Regions from separate parts of the Homo sapiens genome. Here regions 1, 2 and 4 are each linked to region 3. Evidence: fine-mapped expression QTL. A gene starts in region 3. Each other region holds a variant in brackets. All regions are shown on one strand. Distances are between the middles of the regions.

The links. PIP is the estimated chance that this variant, and not a neighbour inherited with it, causes the effect.
Region 1: its variant is fine-mapped to the expression of RAP1GDS1 in spinal cord (GTEx, PIP above 0.99).
Region 2: its variant is fine-mapped to the expression of RAP1GDS1 in CD4 T cells (CEDAR, PIP 0.95).
Region 4: its variant is fine-mapped to the expression of RAP1GDS1 in whole blood (INTERVAL, PIP 0.99).

The regions. Positions count from the first base shown.
Region 1 is chr4:98,357,216-98,362,489 of GRCh38, reverse strand. The region is part of intron 4 of RAP1GDS1 (Rap1 GTPase-GDP dissociation stimulator 1); the gene reads right to left. Among named protein-coding and RNA genes, the nearest start is that of RAP1GDS1, 98 kb to the right of the region's middle. The variant C/T (reference allele first, on the strand shown) is at 2,609.
Region 2 is chr4:98,448,062-98,453,335 of GRCh38, reverse strand. No RefSeq gene overlaps it. Among named protein-coding and RNA genes, the nearest start is that of RAP1GDS1, 190 kb to the right of the region's middle. The variant C/T (reference allele first, on the strand shown) is at 2,103.
Region 3 is chr4:98,258,650-98,263,923 of GRCh38, reverse strand. RAP1GDS1 (Rap1 GTPase-GDP dissociation stimulator 1) reads right to left here and starts at 2,540. Exons shown (of 15, transcript NM_001100427.2): 1 at 2,355-2,540. The coding sequence starts at 2,358. RefSeq lists silencers at 2,250-2,319, 2,420-2,719 and enhancers at 2,686-3,248, 3,000-3,299.
Region 4 is chr4:97,318,064-97,323,337 of GRCh38, reverse strand. No RefSeq gene overlaps it. Among named protein-coding and RNA genes, the nearest start is that of STPG2-AS1, 46 kb to the left of the region's middle. The variant T/A (reference allele first, on the strand shown) is at 2,526.

The DNA of each region.
Region 1 (5,274 bases), 99 kb before region 3:
TAGTTGTTGTCTGTTTTCAGACAAGGTCTTGCTCTGTCACCCAGGCTGGAGTGTGGTAGCACAATCATGTCTCCCTGCAGCCTTGAACTCCCAGGCTCGTGTCATCCTACCTCAGCCTCCTGAGTAGCAGGACTACAGAAGTGCTCCATCATGCACAGCTAAATTTATTTTTTGTAGAGATGCGATCTTGCTATGACGCCCAGGCTAATCTTGCACTCCTGGGCTCAAGTGATCCTCTCACCTTAGCCTCTGAAAATGTTAGGATCACAGCTGTGAGCCACCACATGCAGACCCTACATTGTTTTTCAAGATAAAGTTAAAATGTATTTATGAAGTCTACTAGGAAAGAAAATTAAATTCTAATGCTTACATTTCCCCCTATAATTTTGCCAACAGTGAATTTCTATTATGTACCTTAGACATAATCGAATGTTTTCAGCATTCAAATAAAAAAGCTCATGAATATCGTTTCTAAAACTCAAAACGCAATTTATTCACCTTCCAGATTCAGGCAAAATCCCTGAAAGACTAGATATAAAAGCAAAAGCTATAACATATTACATAAGTAAAATCACAAAAATGAGTCATGAAGAAAAAGCCACCATGACTGTTAAGTGCACACATATCAAAAGAGAAGCATGCAATTTGCAATTTTGTGACATTATATTCAGGTTTAAAAATCTGCATTTAGGTGGGAAAATTTCAAGGTGTATATACATTTACACTTGTAATGCCAGATCAGGAAAAGTAAATGAATTAAATCTTTCATTTCCCAAAGCACTAGTACCAAGGGCACAGCATAAAATGAGGTTATGGCCCAGCATTTGATGGACACAGTTTTTGGTGTGCCTGCTGATACTAGTATTAATTTCTGTTGTCCAACAGATTTCTCACATTAGTTAAAATTGTTCAATAATTCTACTTTTTCAAAAACCCTTTATCTAATAAAGGCTCCATAAATGGCAATACATTTCCTAAAGAAATTACTAAAGCTTTCTTTACTCCCTATATTTTTATATTTCTGTATCATTTTATTAGCAAAAGACTGAATATCTTTATACACAAATTATAAAGTCATTTAACTCAATTATTTCCATAAAAGTTACTTTTACATAGCATTTAGATAATAATGTATGTAATTTATTGTTCCAATTTATTACTCCAATTGTTCAAGATCAAAACGTTTTATAAATATTTTAAATATAAAAGGTGTTTTTGTACCAAACTATTTCATACTTAAATTATGCTAGACTATATATATATGTATATATATATGTGTGTGTGTGAGAGCAAATGCATATATAGTTATTTAGAATTTAATCTGAACTGATGACAGCATAGTTTCTCAACGGGTAAAAACATTTTACTCAGCAGGAAAAATGTAAATTATTCACTCTTTTTTTTTTTTTTTTTGAGACAGAGTCTCACTCCGTCACCTAGGCTGGAGTACAGTGCTGTGATCTTAAATCACTGCCTCCTGGGTTCAAGCAATTCTCATGCCCCAGCCTCCCAAAGCTGGAATTACAGGTATATGCCACCATGCCTGGCTAGTTTTGTTTTGTTTTGTTTTCTTTTTAAAAAGTAGAGATGGGGTTTCACCATGTTGACCAGACTGCTCTTGAACTCCTGACCTCAAGTGATCCACCTGCCTCGCCCTCCCAAAATGATGGGATTACAAGCGTGAGCCACTATGCCTGGCCCTGAATTATTCACTTTTACGTAGCATTTATTTTTCATATTTCCTCACCGCCAAGGAAAATGCACCCTACTTGTAGCAAGGAAAAGGCTGATTAAAAGTTGAGAAAGTTCTCAGTACTTCAACTTGGTTACAAATAAGAAAATTTTAAAAATGTAAACAAAACCCTATTAAAAAGAGCAGAGGATAATATGTGTTGACAGGGTTTCAATAAGCAGACTGGAAATCTTATGTTTCACATATCTAAACTTTGACTTTAACAGGTGAAATGAGAGTGGTAAAGGTAAGGGGAAAAAACAGATTTAGACAAAAAATGTTTTTAAACCCCCAAGTAGGCCTCTATAATTAGACTTTTCCCACCCTACCTAAGTCCTCTTAATGAGGAAAGGAAAGTTCTAAAGCCATTCAGACTTCTGACTCAGAGAATGGGGGTGGGGTTGGGGGGGAAGGCAACCATATATGACTTCTTATTGAACCCAAGAAAAATCATCTAATATTTTTGCCACGTGCAATACTCTCTCACAGGTTGCCTCTACTTTCGTATCTATAAAATTAAGAACAATTACTCGAAATTACTATTTCATGTCTTCCCTAAGACATTAGCTTTTTATAACATAGTATTTGGAAAGTAATCAAGCATGGGGAAAAAAGCAGTAATATGTGTTCTTTGTCCTACAATTTTAAGGTAAACTTTATAGAATCTTGGATTTCCAAACACCATTTAATAAAAGAGGGATTTAAATTTAATACCAAGTACAAAAATGGAAAGATCATAGTTTCTCAAAGTGTAAACTATCTGAAGAGATAGAGTACTTTACATTGCTTAAATAAACCTGGTGCAGTGCTACGCAAAAACCAGCCAAACTGATAATAAACTATCTGAGTACTGTCTCTCACTTTACAATATAATTT[C/T]GTTCTCTCTGCCGCAGTCACTATTTACCACACCACACCCGGCCTCCTGTAATGGCTTCCTGATATCTCTGCCTCACATCTCTGTCCATTCCAATTAGACTATATGATGCTACAAAACTGAAAATATCAATTTCTTCAAGTTACTTTCAGAGGCTCCTTCCTGTCCACATATCAAAGTCAAAATAATTCCTTAGCCTATAGACATTTTAAGCACACTATACATTAATGGATGCACAATCAAGATCTCTACCATAGCATACCTATATTACTATTTGGCTATTTTAAAAAATCGTATCTTCATGATTTACATGTCCTACAGCCCCAATTTTGAACTTTCCCCCAAAACCACAAACTTCCTACCATCATTTTGGTGTTGACTTTTATTAACAGATGAGCCTGACATCTACCTTACTGGGAAGACAGAACTATACCCAGAAATACACTTTTGAGTGCCCTCTTTACTACTTAAAGGTTTTTTTATACTTTCATTTATCTTCTGTCTTTTATTCTCTATGGCAGAAATGTCCTTTCTCATTTTAATATCAACCTGTTTACTTGAGTTCATAATTTCACTTTTTTTGGTCTATAATATTTCCCTATCAGTTATTCCCTTTCTAGGAAATTTACTCTGCTTTTGTCCCTAGGTCCTAACCCAACAAATACGAATTCCCACTCCGTAAATCTTATTTTAGGGCTGTTAGGTTTTTGTTGATTTTTTTCCATAAAAGTCCAATTTGGAGGGAGAAAAAATTACAGGCATTTTTGTCTTTCACATTAATTGCACAAACTCATTAAAATTACTGCTGTGAGCTATGCTGTAAAATTTTATGTGTATGCCTGCTGCCCCCACCTCCCACCTCAGGTACTGCTGAAACAACAAGGTCATTTCCCATAGGGAAGAGAATATATATGCTTTCTGGATAGGTGAGGTTTTAAAACTTTTTATTTAGAAGTAATTAGAGGCTCACAAGAAGTTATTTAAAAAAAAAAAGCACAGAAAGGTCTCATGTACCCTTTATCCAGCCTCCTCCAATGGTAACATTGCATAACTCTACTACACAATAGCATAACCAGGACACTGACATTGGTACAATGTCAGACCTTATTCATATTTCATCAGTTTTTACATGCATTAGTGTATGTGTATGGGCATGTATGGTTCTAAGCAATTCTAACATATGTACAGATTTGTGTACCACAACTAAAGTGGTATTTTAAAATACTCACTTTCATGCTAGTCAGGTTTCCATCAAACTGATAATGGGCTCAAAAATCAGAGATAAACATGGTTTTTGGTCTCAAGAAATAGAACTTGGATATATCACACAACACAGAGAAAAGGATAAAGTACAATGAATGGAAACCAGAATTGTATTCTGGTTTTAAACTAAACTAGGAAATATATTCAAGTCAAAACTTTTTCAAATTTTTAAACTGAATCCTTTAAGCAAGTTTAACCACCAAAAAACAACACACTCGGGATATACTACCCAAATAAAACTACCTTCTGTAAAGTCCTCAGTATTATTTCCCAGATTCTGTTGAAGATTAGTACAAGAAACAATCACATGGAAAACATCTGGGCAACTTTTGTAGAACCGTCACTAGGTACACTATAATGCCAGTAAATATCCTTACATATTGTAACTAGGTATGTGCACAGAATCATCTAGGGAATTAATGACATCCTGATAAGTCCCTCCTACTATTTTGTCTCAAAAGTTGTTTGATTAAAGAACTAAAATATTCCTTTTTATCATAAAATAAAAATTACAAGGCATATCAAGTTGTTTTTTCACATAGGCTGCCAAGAAGCTCAAGTGAAATCAGTGCTTATACACAGTTAAGCACATTATCCCTGCTTCCCACCAGATTTATCTTTGCCTCTCTTTATATGGCTTCTGGCTTTTATATCTTTATGGAAATACCTTTTGTATGTTATTGTATGTATTACACTGAGTCACACACACTTTTTATATAAACATACTTAATCCACACAAGCTTACTTTACCAAGGAGGAAATTAAAATCAGAAAAATTAAATGACAACTTAGTGAATGGTGGAGCTGGAAATCACATTCATTTGCAATACCAACTTTCTAGGGGTTATATTAAAATTTTATACATTTATAATTATATTAATTTGTAAACAAATTCTTTTCTAAGCAATGCACTATTTGGTTAATTTCTTAAAAAACAGCTACAGTTAATATTCTTATTAATTTTCATTCTGATAAAAAAACATATTTAGTGTGTGCTCTGTAATTGTCCTCAGGTTGTGTTCCTTTGTTCATTTTATTTTCTCTACCATTTAAAAAGCTCTTTAATGGCATATGCTTGTGTTTAGAGCTTATGATAGTGTTACAAAACAACATCTACTTCAATCTATATTTAGAATGTCTTTATAGTGGAATGCTTTCATGTGATAATAGTCATAACTACTATCTCTAAAAGTAGCAGTAACATATTGTTGTTTATTCTTATACACATGATGTACTTTAATAATAAACTCATAAAATACAACAGATTGATGAAAACTGAAGAATCTTATTTTTACGCTACTTACTGACTGATAATTCTATTTTATTCTAAAACTGAATAACACAGAAAATAGGGTAAATACAAAGACTTGCATGAGACTTTAATAACATACCTAATATAACTCAT
Region 2 (5,274 bases), 190 kb before region 3:
TCCTCCCTAGGTCATTCTGTGAAGCCAGTATCACCCCAATACCAAAACCAGGAAAGGACATAACAAAAAAGGAAACTACAGACCAATATCCCTGATAAACGTAGATGTAAAAATCCTCAAGAAAATACTAGCTAACCAAATTCAACAGCATATCAGAAAGATAATCCAACATGATCAAGTGGTTTTCATACCAGGGATGTATTCTGCATCCCTGCATACTTAACATATGCAAGTCAAAAAGTGTGATACACCACATAAACAGAATTAAAAACAAAAATCACATGATCATCTCAATAGATGCAGAAGAAGCATTTGACAAAATCCAGCATCCTTTATGATTAAAACCCTCAGCAAAATTGGCATAGAAGGGAAATACCTTAAGGTAATAAAAGCCATCCTGACAAACCCACAGTCAACATTATACTGAATGGGAAGAAGTTGAAAGCATTCCCCCTGAGAACTGGGACAAGACAAGGATGCCTACTTCCAGTACTTCTATTCAACATAGTGCTAGAAATCCTAGCCAGAGCAATTAGGCAAGAGAAAGAAATAAAGGGCATCCAAATTGGTAAAGAGGAAGCCACACTGTTGCTGTTTGCTGGTGACATGATCATATGGAGAGAAAAGCCTTTTCAAGATAGGAGGAAGTCATGCCAGCACATGGAAGGGCTATGAGGTACACATGGGCACTTGGAAAGCTAAGGAGAAAGGCTATGAGCTAACCAAGCACACGACCATCCCCTCTGCCTTCTCTAAGAGCTCAAAGTCTCAGACTATCAGCAAAAGACTTTGGATGTCTGAGAGAACATGCTTTTCATAAGGATGATGGGGGTAGGGGATGGTTGTGTCCGGGGCTATGCCCCATATGCTGGGCATGAGGGTATCCTGATGATTAATCCAGAGGATGTGTCAGGCAGGATTCCAGAAAGTTTAGGGGAGCAGAAAAATCTCTGAACCATCCTGGGATATAATGTCTCCTTTACAGCAACATCTGGGAGCTGGGTGGCTCAGGATATCTGATCTCTTTAAGTATGGTGCTTTACTTGGCAAGTGATTATTAGTCTCTGAGTCAGAACTCAGTGGCCTCAAAAAGGATGGACGTTGAACAAAAATCCTGGGGTATCAATTCAGGAAATGGCTACCTACTTGACCAAACAAGGTGAGGACTCTTGTTGGCCAGGCCACACTCTGAGGACTTTAAGCAAAGTATCATTTCATTGCCCTTGGTTCTAGCTGGCGTTTTTCTACTCTGGCTGCAGATCAGAATCACCTTTGGAGCTTTAAAAAAATTCAGATACCCAGGCCCCAGTTCCAGGGATTTGATTCCCTAAGTGTTGGGAAAAGCACACTTTTTTTTTTTTTTAGACAGGGTCTTGCTCTGTCACCCAGTCTGGAGTACAGTGGCATGACCACGGCTCACTGCAACCTCTGCCTTTCAGGCTCAAACAATCCTCCCACCTCAACCTTTCATATAGCTGCGACTACAGGCACACACCACCATGTCTGACTAATTTAAGCAAACTTTTTAAAAAAATGGATCTATTGTTGGTGTTTCCTGGGGACCCTGAGGCAACACAATGATGTGTGAGTTTAGGAAGTGCCAAAGGGAGCACTGAGGCCTGCGGGGCTCAGTTTGTTTATGGAGCAACCCCTGTACTCATGGCTCAGCTGGAATAAGAACGTGTCCACTTGCCTATCTCCTCCTCAAGATCCTCTAGGCATCTCCAACCAAATGTGTCAAAGCCAACTCATTTTACAGGAACCCACTTTCCTTTCTGTGTTCCTCCTTTTAGTTAACATCACCACCATCTTCTGCCCAGTCACCCAACTCAGATACTTCAGAATGATCTTCTTTTCCAATCTCTAGCTCCATAAAAGTATCCCAGACCCTTCCTCTCTAAAAATCCTAGTTTAGGCATCAACAATTGTGAAGTGTTTGAGATTTTACCCTCCTTGCAAGCTAACAAGTTAGCCTGCCACAGGTACATAGATGCTGAGAGAAGGCCTGAGACTCCTGGGTCAGACTGAAAGGACTTTATTATGCATGCACCCCTGGTAAAATGAATCTCATGTTTGCAGTAGTTTCTCTTGCTTCCCAAGTC[C/T]GACAGGGAACAGTGGCCCAGATGGATACTTCACACACAGCAGGTTTATGCCCCAGCGAAGGAACTGAGTTTAGGAAACCCCAGTCTCATAAAGGGGCCTGCAAGTGATCCTGACCAAACTTTGCCCCCGAGGGAGACCTTATCTTGATTTCTGTACAGTAAAAATAAATCTGCCTGTCCCAGGGAGACACTGTCTCTATCTTACAAGGCTATTTGGCATATAAAGATCCTTGAAAAGGTAGTTAAAAAGAAAAAGCTGAAGCTGTCTTTCACAGAGGTATGGAAATACAAGATACCCATCGAGAATTGTCTCTCAACATCAGGAATTCATCACAATTACCTATTAATTTCCTTTCTGCTAGCCTGCCCCACCCCCATTAGCAATAATTCTGATTCTAGAACAAAACATAAAGCAAATATACCCATCTTTTATGTAGAAACCTTGGTTTTTCCGTTATATAATACAAAGTTAAAATGGCTAATGTCTACTCCCTGCTCCTGCCATCTCTTCTGCTCTATTTTCCTAGCCTTTTCTTTTGCTCCCACCCTTCCTTCCTATGTACCCTCTGCCCCAAGATGCCCAGAGCACCCAGAGTCACCTCTACAGAACCCCATAACTCTGTTCATGCCTTGGTTAAAGCCCTTACTTGTTTGCTCAATAATCAGGTTCATGTTTATCTTCTTCCAACACAGTGCCTGACATAGTAAGTGTTTAGTAAATCTTTGGGTAGTGAGGAAGGCTGTTGAGTTAGAGAGTCAGGCTTTTTGGTGTATTTTTGAACTTTGAGGGTTAAAACTGGTAGCCCCAGTTGTTTAAATCCTTTGGATTCTGTTGTCATGAGGTCTGTGGCCATGGCCTTTAAGCAGAACAAATTGTCCTAGGGGAGATTTTGATACATTAACGACTAGCTTCATGAATCAAGATTTCATTCCATTTGAAATAATGGAAAACCCTGCCTGAGGGATTTCAACGTCAGGTGTGTGTCTCCTGCCATCAGCATGAGGGTTCTCAGCATAGGGCCGCTACTCCAGCTTATTGATGCTCCTGTGGACCCAGGCTCTTTGTACCTTTCTGTTCCACTGTCCTTAAGGTACAGGCCTTCATCCTCAGGTTTCTACCTAATCGTTGCTGAAGGGCTGCATATTTGAGGCAAGAAGGAGGGGAAAAAAAGGAAAAGGTGAAGGGACAAAACAGCATTTGCCCAGCAGGTCTTTTCCTTTCTATTTACTAAAGGATGCCATATCTGGGGATTTCTATGGAACTGTAGCACTAGCTTGGAAAGCTGGAAAATGGGACTATTTGAAGCTTGACGTACTAGTCTCTGAACAAAATCGGGGTTCTGTTAATAAGGAGAGCTGGATATTGAAGAAATAATTCATATTTGCCACAAAGACATTTTTTGAACACTTATTGATACTATATTCTTTTTTCAAATATGGTAGGGATGTAAGAGTTCTGGCATGTTTTTGGCTATGGGTTGGCCATCCAGAGCAAACGCAAGGTTTGGCAACTATTCCTCTGCCATTGCCATGCTCTAGCTCCCGGTCTATGTAACCCTTGTTAGCTTAAGGCAAGGAGAATTATCTGGTCTTTCTTTGAGCCCACTGGGGCTTACTCACTCTGGGGTATATAGGGAACATGCTGTTCTTCGGTACATGCTGTCGTTGAAACATTTAGGAGCAGAATGTTTCTTTTCACTGGAATCTTGGCTGGAATGGAGCAGAACTTCTAATTATATGAGTCCTTTAAAATGAGGAGGCTCATTTCTGTGGGGTTGGCTATAAAGAGGAAATTGTGGTTGATCAGGTTAGCCTGGGAGGTTGGCAGGTAGAGTCTGTGTTAGGAATTCTCCAAAGGGAGGCCTCCAAAAGCAGAGCGCAATAAGCCTGGGTGAGCAGGCTTCCATATTATATAAGATCCCCTGACTCATGGGATAAAGATGATGATGAAGATGTCTTTGGCCTGAGGAGAAGGGCTATATTCCTGATCCAGCTAAGGGACTTTCTAAATCCCTGCAGTCCCACAAGCTGCTGCCAGCCCTGTGAGAGGAGAGGGAACAGGAGGGCCAGCACCAGCTCCCTCCTATCAGCAGGATGTGGTGAGTGCAGGCTTGGGCATGGCTTGCAGCTGTTTTCATGTTCCTGCCACTTGTCAGACTGCAGCTGTCACTGACTCTCAGGATGGCAAGTCTTCTCTGGGGGACTAAAGGCAGTGCAAGTTTGCACAGGTCATATAAATGACCTTGGGTCAAATATTTGGATCTTCCTTAAACATGGCCTTTCCCATAGTGCTGTTCTCTGTCCCTAAAAATCCATTTCCCTTTCTCCTGCTCTGGAAGCAGACAGCCTCCATCCACAGGGTCACAGATGCATAGGCTTCCAGGGGCTATGCAGTTTAGGTGAATGGCCAGGTGGGGATCTAATCCAGTAGAGAGACATATCCTGTCCAAAGGGGGCCCCACCCACATGCTCTTCTCCTGAAATGTAGAGTCCCTGGTTTCCAGATCTCCTCATTTTAAAAGAAAAGCCAGAGAAATGGATTTTTATGCAAAATCACTTACATTTTAAATGTTTAAAGCTATTCATTTTTTCTCCTTTTCTTCTTCCTTTTTTTTTTTTTTAAAAAATACCAGGCCGGACGCGGTGACTCACGCCTGTAATCCCAGCACTTTGGGAGGCTGAGGCGGGCGGATCACAAGGTCAGGAGATTGAGACCATCCTGGCTAACACGGTGAAACCATGTCTCTACTAAAAATACAAAAAATTAGCTGGGCGTGGTGGCGGGCACCTGTAGTCCCAGCTACTCAGGAGGCTGAGGCAGGAGAATGGCGTGAACCCGGGAAGCAGAGCTTGCAGCAAGCTGAGATGGCACCACTGCACTCCAGCCTGGGTGACAGAACAAGACTCCATCTCAAAACAAAACAAAACAAAAAACAACAACCATGTGGCCCAAACAACATGTGTGAGGGCCCCTAGTTTGTTTGCCATCCCTAGTCTATAGAGGAAGAAACAGATTGGCCAGGTGATAGAATCATGAAGAGCATGAAGAGTGTTTAATGATGACTCTTGTGGAAGAAGAGGCCCTCCACTCCTTCCCTCCCCTCTCCATGTGAGTGGTGCCTGGAGAGTGTTGATCAGCTTGGAAGAAATCAGAGTGGTGGTTCACAGGTTT
Region 3 (5,274 bases):
CTTACCATTGAAGAGAGTTTAGAAGGAAACAGATTGCCTGAGGTTGACTCAAAACCAACCTACAGTGTACTGGGAGGCATGGTACAATTATACCTTTCTGTTTCTGCTTATCCCCCAACTAGATAATATGTACCAACCCAAATGTTTGTTCAGATGAAGACTATATCTTCAGGTTCAAAAGTTGAAAATAATAGGTGGCTTTAAGTTCAACAATTTGCCAAAGATTTACTGAATTTCTATTTGAAAAGCACTGTGGGGAACACAAAAAATAATAAGACACTTTTCATCTTCTGGGACTCATGATTAAATGCACAGCACACACATAAACAACTTTATTATATGGTAGATTACGTAAGTGCTAAAAAGCTTCTAACAAGGTACAAACAGTGCTTATGAAGAGACAGATTAACCAAAGAGTATCAGAGATGGCTTCAAAATGAGAGATAGGTTTCTATTTGGCCCTTTTTAAAAATCAAGCAATAGCACTCAAGATTTTGAAGATTATTTTTAAGTAGATAATTTCTTTTAGGTATTTTTATTCACCAGTGTTGTAACGGAATTGGATTTTTTCCACTGAAAAAGTACGGATTTAACATGTAAGCTAAAATGTTAAATGGATTGTTTAAGGCTCACCTGGAAACATGGGAAAATATATTTTGCAAGCCAAACTTGAACTTACAGTCCAATATCAGATAGGGTTATTGGACATACTGTATATTTCCTTTGAACATACACACACTTATCTGTGTATGTATGTTCAAAGGAATTTTATTTCAAAGTGTATTTTATCTGTGTATGTTCAAAGGGAACACACATAAACGTGTGTATGTTCGACGGAAATATACAGCTTGTCCAATAATCTGATATAATACCTATTTAAAAATCTACTTTAAGAGAAAGGCAGACACGCATAAATGGGCCACCCAATTTTTACAGAAATTTGTTCAGCATATCGAGTACTCACGTTAAAAAGAAAAAACAACTGAAAATAAAATTCAGAGCCCTAGACCTTTTTTGATTCATACCACCTCCTCCGTCAACCCTGGCCTCTTCCAGATATATGGCCAAAGGTCGGGATCAAAGCCTGAAGCATTTGCTGTTCCAGAAAACTCTATGGACACCATTCCCAGGTTTAGATACTTCTTGAAGATTCTGAGTTGCACCACCTAACTCTGAACGTGTTGAGCACTGTATTAACAGATGAAAGGACCACATTCATCTCAAGCTTTAAATAACTCGCACAGAAGGGGTGGGAAAAGTCCCAGCTGACAGATGCCAAGGGAGCAAATTTTAAAAAGAGGAAATTATGACAGACAGGAGTGGAAGCAAACTGGGGAACTTAGTACAAGTCGCTACTATTAAAAGAAACTTTGAGCTCTTAATTACATGACAGCATTCATCAGACGTTTCTGTGATTACTGAATGTAACAGTTAAGCAATAGATGATGTAAAAAAATTAGGTCAAATGTATATATCGTTTTATAAAACATATTTGCTCTTAAATCTCTCATCCAAACCAATCTCTTCAGATTAACTATAAATACAAAGGAACTAAAATCAGATTATGCAGATTAGACAGGAGGAAGCTGGGAAAGAATAACTACCATGTAAGTTCGGTAACAACGTTACAGGGCGCAGTTTCCTGCTACAGAAGACGGACGAAGGAATCCAGAAAATAGGCTGGGCACGGGAATATTGCACACTGTAGTCACCCAGCACTAATTCAACAGCTAGCGGCTCTATCCTGCCTCACGTTCCTCGTGGCCTCTGACAAGTCATCCTTTCAACCTATGAGGCTGTCCGCTCTCCCCCTTGGAAAATAATTTCCGTGCAGGTTGTAAGATCTCCCTCACAAACTACTTGCTTCCACTTCCCCGCCCGGGATGAGGAGTCTCCACGACGGGGAAAGGTCGCACTGACAGAGAAGGAAGTTACACGAAGTGGTAGTGGTCGGACCCGAGCCTCGAGCTCAGTACACGCGGGGGAAAAGGAAGCGGGCGGCCTCTGGAGAAACGGGGATGGAGCTGCAGATGCGAGCCCGCGAGGCAGGCTCCGTGGTGCCCGGGCACCGGCAGGAAGAATGGAGGAGGGGAGGCGAGGCTGCGAGGTGCCGGGGAGCCGGGCGGCGGTCCGGCCCGCGGCCGACCCCACCCCAGCCCGCGCTCGGGACCCTCCCAGCCCCGGCACCCGGCGTGCGTTCCGCGTGCGCCGACTCTCCCCGGAGGAACAGCCACCGTCTCACACCCGGGGACTGGAGAAATCCGGCAACTTTGCGCGAGAAATGCTTCCCACCCTGCAGCACGCCGAGAAAGAAAAAAATGTCAGGCGATGACGGCGGAGGAAGGATGACTTACCCATGTTGCTCCCCGAGGGTGAGGAACCGGCGGGGCGAGGCGAAGGTCTGTGGTGCGGGCGGCGCGGCTCTGTGTCCTCCCTCTACCTCCGTCTCTCCCGCAGCCAGGGAGGGACCCGCGGGGGGCGGCCGCCGGGGAGGAGCAGCTGGTGCTGCTGCAGGCGGCGCGGCCGCGGCGGGGACGAGCGGCGGGGGGCGGGGCGGGGCGGGGCGGGGCGGGACTGGCGGGCGCAGCCTGCGGCGGGCGCGGCTCCGAGCGGGCGGGCGGCGGAGGCGCGGGAGCCGGCCTGAAGAGCTCCGGCCCCGACTCGCAGCCCACGAGCGCCCCGCCCTCCCCACCGAGCATGCTCAGTGCCTTTTCCACCCCTCCCTCTGTGGCGAGCGAGGCTAAGCGTGCGGGTGGGCGTGTGTTTGCAGACCGGCTGCAGCCGCGGCAGAGGATCTTCATGGCGGCCGCCTGAGAGGCGGAGGGCGGGCCCGGAGAAAACAGGGAATGGGGATATTGAGCCCGATCTGCTAGCAGAGGACTCACCGCTGCCTTGCTTTCCCACCCTGACCCACCAACCCCTCACCCGGAACCCGGGCTTGCCTTCTTTACGGGACGACCGGGCCGCACAGGCCGGAATTAACCGGAGAAGAGGCTGGGCCGCCGCAGAGCCGGGAGGGGTGGTGGGAAGCCAGAGCTGACGAAGTTGGAAAGGACGTGTAGGCGACTAGGCCTGCGCCTCTTGGGGACACCTGAGGACGCCCGCTGGGCAGCTGGCTGAGGAGGGGCCGCCGGGAGGGCGCTCGATAGCAGGCGTGTCATTGGGACACTTAAGGCTGCTCTAGCTGTGGCCAGCTTAGAAACAAAGGTCCCGGCAGCGAGGAGAGCGCCCGCCCCAGGATTTCCTCGAAGAGTGTGTCGTTCTCCCTCCCGGAGGAGCGCGGCCTTCCGTTCCCCGGAGGGCTCTGGAAAGGCCCTTTAACCGGGGTGCCGTCGGGCTCCATCCTGCTGTGAAAGCGGGAGGAACTACGTTCCCCAGGCTTGAAAATAAGCGTCCTGCTGGGTTGGCTGCGGCACTGCCAAAGCTAACCCGGCGGAGGTCCTTTGATCCCGGGGCCACCGCCCGCTCCCACCACCACCTCGGCCTCGGGGAGAACCTGAGCAGGGCTCTCCCACTGAGGGCGTCCTCCCGACTGGGCATGCACGTGAGGCCGGGGCTGGCTTCGGTCCTCTTCCCTGGGGTAGGAGGCTGGAGGAAACCGATTTCTCTGCACCCTAATCTTGCCCTGGCTCCTCCTGAGTGGGGTGAGGAATCTGGTCGCTCTCCAAGGCTACAGCGACCGGAGTCCTTCAGGGGACACTGTGCAGTCAGCAGTACAACCTGTTGGAGAAAGATGGCTGAATCGAGGTGTCTTTCCCCTGTCAACTTTCACTCGGTCAATCCAATGTTGAGAAAGGGCTTTTTTTGTTTGTTTGTTAATTAGTCGCCTATTCTCACAGTCATCAGTTTCTGCTTGGTGACTAGTATTTCGAGCACACAAATCAGAAGCGACCCTGTAATTTGTTAAGCAAAGAGCAGATTTTATGTGATTTTTCTACAGCAAGAAACGATAATTAAAAAGGTTTGGTAAAACAGGAAAATACAATTTAACTGCTGAAGTCAAATATATGGGACTTTTCTGATGCATGAGACTATCAGGCACCTCACTCTTAGGATGTTCTTCTTGTTTGCCTCTTAAAATAATCGCACTACATTAGTTCCCTAGGGCTGCCGTAACATACCACAAATTGGGTGACTTAAAACAACAAATTATTATCTCACAATTCTGGAGGCCAGAAGTTTGAAATCAAGGTGTAGGCAGGGCTGTACTCCCTCTGAGGGCACTGGGGAGGGATCTCGTCCATGCCTCTCCTAGCTTCTGGTAGTTTCTTGGCATATGGTAGCGTAACTCCAATCTGAACATGGCTGTTCTCCCAGTGTGCTTGTGTGTTCAAATTTCCCTTTTTAATAAGAACAGCAGTCATAACGGATTAGGGGCGAACCATCCTCCAGTATGACCTCATGGACGTTAATTATATCTGCAATGACCCTATTTCCAAATCAGGTCACATTCTAAGGGACTAAGGGTTAGGACTTCTACATATGAATAGGGCCAGCCTGGCCAACATGACGAAACCCCATCTCTAACTAAAAATACAAAAAATTAGCCAGGGCCAGGCACAGTGGCTCACGCCTGTAATCCTAACACTTTGGGAGGCTCAGGAGGGCAGATCACTTAAGTCAGGAGCTGGAGATCAGCCTGGCCAACATGGCAAAACCCTATTTCTACTAAAAAATAAATAAAATAAATAAATTAGCTGGGCATGGTGGCACGTGTCTGTAATCCCAGCTACTTGGGAGGCTGAGGCAGGAGAATCGCTTGAACCCGGGAGGCGGAGGTTGCAGTGAGCTGAGATTGCACCACTGCACTCCAGCCTGGGCCACAGAGCAAGACCCTGTCTCAAAAAAAATAAAAATAAAAAAAAAGAATCCGGGAGGGGTACACAATTCAACCCATAATACACCAATGCAGACCCCACCCTCAGGGCCCCTCACTGCCCCCACATCGGCCATGTTACACATTAATTTTATTACTCCTCCAGAAGACCAGCCTGGGCCTTTGCATTGCTGCTCATCATTTTTTGTTCATCTCTCCTTAACACTCATTAATCTCTTCCAGATTGTCAAGTTAACTTGCTTTATTTTTCCTACTTCCTTATCTAATTACATATTATAATAATTTCATGGAGTATCTTCTATCATTTATTTGGATGTAAGCGTTGAAATTAGCAAAAGCAGCTGAAGTGGCTTTCTCATTTCCCATCTGACACTAGTTAAAGTGCCTTTTTTGTTCTACTTCAATCTACAAGCCATCTCCTTAGCCTTCCTGCCAAT
Region 4 (5,274 bases), 940 kb after region 3:
TCCATTTATTCATTTATCTGTTCATTCATTTATTCATTATCCTGTTTCAGGGATACACCAATGAATACAACAGTCAAGATCTATTTTTATGGAGATTACATTCTATTGTAATCAAACAGAAACAGTAAAATAAAGAACAGACTGTGTGATGCTCTGAGAAAAAAACAAAGTAGGCTAAGAAGATGGAGAATATTGATGAGACATTGCTCTTTTAGTTGGGGTTGTCAGGTGAGATATCTTTCATATAGTGGCATTTGACTGGAATGAGACAATTACCCATATCAGTATATCTGTGTGTCTATATCTTTGTGTACATGTGGTTGTATAGTTATATATATTGTAAGGGGTTGAAAACAGGCCACCCCAAAATATGACATCTTGGCATATTGATTATTTTGAGTTAAAGGCACTTGAAAAACAGCAGATGCAACAAGGGCACCTTGACCTGCTTTTTATTCCTAAAAGCAGGAGATTAAACTTCCATGTAAAGGATGCTCTTCACATGGGAAGGAAGGAAGACATTCTTGTCACCAGAGATGAGGAGGCAAGGCTGAGAGAAATCTGTACAAACTAACCTTGTCAAACTAACTCTTATCTTCCTAGTCATTTTTCCACAGTTAACTGGCCGAGCCCAAGCCCCTTGTCTTGCCATATTTTCACAATTTACTGCTCTTTGTCCAATCTAGTATACAAGCTTTCAGCTCTAAATGCTTCTTTAGGTCTTCATTTTCCTTCTGAAGGCTCCCATGCACATAGAAAACTTACTAAATAAAATGTGTATGCTTTTCTCCTGATAATCTGTCATATGTTAGTTTAATTCTTAGGCCCAGCTAGAGATGCTAATAGGCTACAGAAGAAATTTTATGTCCATGACAGTATTCTAGGAATGTATATATACATATCTATACATCAGATATGTACATATGTGTTGTGTGTATGTAATCTGGAGGTGGAGTTATGGACAGAGGGAATACATCCTAAGATAGAAATGTGTTGTTGGAATAGCAGGTGCCAGTGTTGCTTAAATAATGTGAGAGAGCATGTGAAACATGTGACATGAGACCAGAGAGGTAATTGGAGACCAGATAATATGTGCTGTGTAGGTCATTATAAGAATTTGGCTTTGCCTCTGAGTCCATTGATGGGTTATAAACAGGGAAGTAATATGATCTGACGTAGGATTTCAAGACTCTTTCTGGCTACTATGGGAGGAAAAATACCATGGGGTAAGCAAGGGTAAAAGTCAACAGACTAATTTGATGAATATTGTAGTAATCTATTTGAAAAGTCATGGTGACTTGAACTCAGGTGATAGGAGAAGAGGTGGTAAAGAAATGATTGGAGTCTGAATGTGCTCTGAAAATGGCAGTTATAAGATTTGCAGAGAGAGTATGTGGGTAGACCCGAATAGAGTTTTGGCAGACTAGTAAATATCATAAACATCATGGAGAAGATAGGAAGACAGCATTCTACACATTTTAGAAGGCATGGGGGCTTAAGGACATAATGCATGCTTGAGGAATTAGAAATCTTCTGAAGAAGGAGAAGAAATGGTAAATGAGATATCAAAACTCAGTAGGCCCCAGCTTATGTTGGATAAACTTGGAGTTTATCCTGAAGGTGCTGAGGAGTCATTAAATAATTTTTGAAAGGGAGTGAGGCAGCATCATATTTATGTTTTAGGATGTTCCTGCTGACAGTAGAATGCAGAATGAACTGGAGAGAGCACAGAGTTTGAGGTTAGAGGCCACACTGGAGACTTTTGCAATATTTCATCTGAGAGATGATAGTGGAAATAACACTGGAAACAGAGAGGAGTGGGTAAGTAAAAGGTATTTAATGGGAAGAAGTGGTGGAAGGTAATAATTTGTTTGGTATAGGAGGTGGAAAAGAGTATAAAAGCAAGGACTATTTCAAATTTTCTGACTTGGGTAACTGCTGTATTGTGGTGGGACATCATTAGGATTGCCCACAAATAGCTCCTAAAAGGACATGAATAGAAAACTCATAGGGCTTGGTAGCAGAAGTATAGATCAAGAAGGATTGCTCAAGTGCTGGCACAGTAAGAATGTCAAGGCCTCGGCCGGAAGCGGTGGCTCAAGCCTGTAATCCCAGCACTTTGGGAGGCCGAGGCAGGCGGATCACGAGGTCAGGAGATCGAGACCATCCTGGCTAACACAGTGAAACCCCGTCTCTACTAAAAATACAACAAAAAAATTAGCCGGGCGTGGTGGCGGGCACCTGTAGTCCCAGCTACTCAGGAGGCTGAGGCAGGAGAATGGCATGAACCCGGGAGGCAGAGCTTGCAGTGAGCCGAGATCATGCCACTGCACTCCAGTCTGGGCGACAGAGTGAGACTCTGTCTCAAAAAAACAAACAAACAAACAAAAAAGAATGTCAAGGCCTCGAGGCCCAGGTAACACAGTAGCCTTATATGGTCTATTGTTTCAGAGTGATAAGGTAGCAACAGATAAAGAGCTAGTGATTCCATAGTTTGAGCCAGGCATGGTGTGTTCTTCCTATAA[T/A]CCCAGTTACTCAGGAGGTTGAGGCAAGAGGATCACTTGAGGCCAGGAGTTTGGGCCCATAGTCCTGTTATTCTCTGACTTGGCATACTTGTTCCTCTCTATGGGTGGTCAAGAACACCAAATTTTCAGCACTCCTTCTCATGAAAGAAGGGAAGAAATAGACCGTCATGTTCACCACTTTTATCCTTTGTACTTCCTATTGTCTCTTCATGAATAGACCAGAGAAAAGTACACTTGTGCCAAGGTCAAATCGTTACCACCTCTAATCTTTCAGCTATTACGAGACTTTATAATCTGGCCTAGCTCGTCTATGGATAATAATGTGTGTGCGTGAATAATAAAGAATGAACATATTCGTATGTAGAGGGGAGAGTAAAGGGGGACTATGTGTTATCTACAAAGAGATTTCCTGGGCCTGTAATTCAAGTTTAAAACCTATGTCTGGAGCTCAAAAAAGAGGCCACACTTCAATCATAGATATGGATGCCATTAGGTGAAATAGGAGATCTCAAGAAGTGGTTAGCATAAGGAGAGAAAAAAGTCAAGGATTGATTTGAGGAAACATCAGAATTCAAGCTATGAGGGCAGAAAGAACATCCTAGAAGAGGAAACTAAGATAGATGGGAAAGCAAGGAGAGAGTGAATCTTGGAAACCAAAGGAGAAGAGATATTTTTACAGTTATAGGGAGGCCAATCGAGGTAAGGAATAAAAACTCTCCTTTGGATTTAGCAACTGGGAAATAATAGATGATGTTAGCTATAGTAACTTTGAAAGTGAAGTAGAGAAATCAGATTTCAGTGGGCTAATTAAATGGCTCTGGAGACAGAGTGTATAGCACTCTTTCTGAAATATAGGCTTTTAAGGAAAGAAGAGACTGGATGATGGCTAGAGGAGATCAAAGAAGATTCATTAAAAATGGCAGAGACTGTAGAATGTTTTATTTTATTTTTATTTCTTTATTATTATTATTATTTTGAGATGGCGTTTCACTCGCGTTCCCCAGGGTGGAGTGCAATGGCATGATCTCGGCTCACTGCAACCTCCGCCTCCTGGGTTCAAGTGATTCTCCTGCCTCAGCCTCCTGAGTAGCTGGGATTACAGGCATGCACAACCAAGCCCAGCTAATCTTGTATTTTTAGTAGAGACAGGGTTTCTCCATGTTGGTCAGGCTGGTCTCGAACTCCTGACCTCAGGTGATCTGCCTTTCTCGGCCTCCCAAAGTGCTGGGATTATAGGTGTGAGCCACTGCGCCCAGCCTAGAATGTTTCTATGTTGAAGAGAGAAGCATATCTTTGGCAAATTTGAAGAGGCATTGTTTGAACAGACTATATGTGGGATTTATTAGTCTGTTTTCTGTTGCTTTTAAAAGAATAACTGAAACTGGATAATTTATAAAGAAAAGGAATTTATTTCTTACAGTTATGGAGGTTGAGAAATCCAAGGTCAAAGCCCACATTTGGTGAGGGCCTTCTTGCTGGTGGGGCTCCTTGTAGGGTTCCAAGGCAGCACAGGGCATCGCATGGTAAGGGGGCTGAGCTTGCTAGTTCATGTTTCTTGTCCTCTTCTTAGAAAGCCACCAGTTCCACCCTCATGGCAACCCATTAATCTTTTAATCCTTTATCCATTAATCTATAAAAAAGATTAATCTATTTATGAGGGCAGAGCCCTCATGACCCTATCACTTCTTAAAGGTCCTTCGTCTCAATACTGCCACAATGGGGATTAAATTTCAACATGAGTTTTGTAGGGGACAAGTATTCAAATCATAGCATGGGATAAGCTATAGAGTGAAATAATAGATAAAGCAGATGATTACATTATTCTGAAGTTTGGATTTCACCTAGATATTTTTGTCAAAGAATATTTGCACAGGGGTGTCAAAGTGATGGTTGGGAGAGTAGTTTAAGTGATAGAATACCAAGTCTAGACTAGTAGGAGTTGAAGCCAGGAAAGGATTAACTAATTAAAAGTATCTCTCTATCTCACAAGTACTGGAAGGTTAAAGTGAGAAAATGATGTTACTACACATAGTGTGTTTTCCATTAATACTAGCTCTCTTTATTCTGAATGCTCAGAAAAAGATATAAGAATACTGAAGAATATGAGACCCCAAAATGAATCAACATTAGAGAGCTCATTATGAGCTCTAAGCAAACTAGTCTCAAATAGGACCCTGTAGAAACTGGACAGAGGAGACACAACAAAGGCAAATCAGGAATTCACAGTCTGTTCATGAACCTTAATAAAGAAAAGGGCTTGAGGAAATCCGTGGCACAATGGTCATGATTCAGACAGCTTATCAAGAGCTCATGAAATGCTGTACTTGTGAGTTCTCTTTGAATAGATACTATAAATGCTACACTCTTAGGAGAAAAAGAAGTGCTAGAAATATATCTAGTGATCTCCGAGACAAATGGAGCAGACCAACTCTGTGACTGATTTTGGCCTTATTCCTAGTTAAAGGCAGATGCCACTAAATATGGACCCATTCACAGTCCACAATGAACTCCTATGATCACGTATGTATTTCAAAATATGCTTTTAAATTTTTTTACTTATCCTTATACTTCATACTTTTATTTTTTTTTTGCATTACATTTTTTTCCAAAAAGCTTTGAAGAAGGAGCCTTTGCTGAAAGAATCTGTATTTCAAATAATTCCTCTCTATCCTCCTTCAGTTGGGTATTACTTTCCTTTCTTTGGCTGTCTTCTCCCATCCTGCTTGATGACTTGCCTCAATTCAGTGTG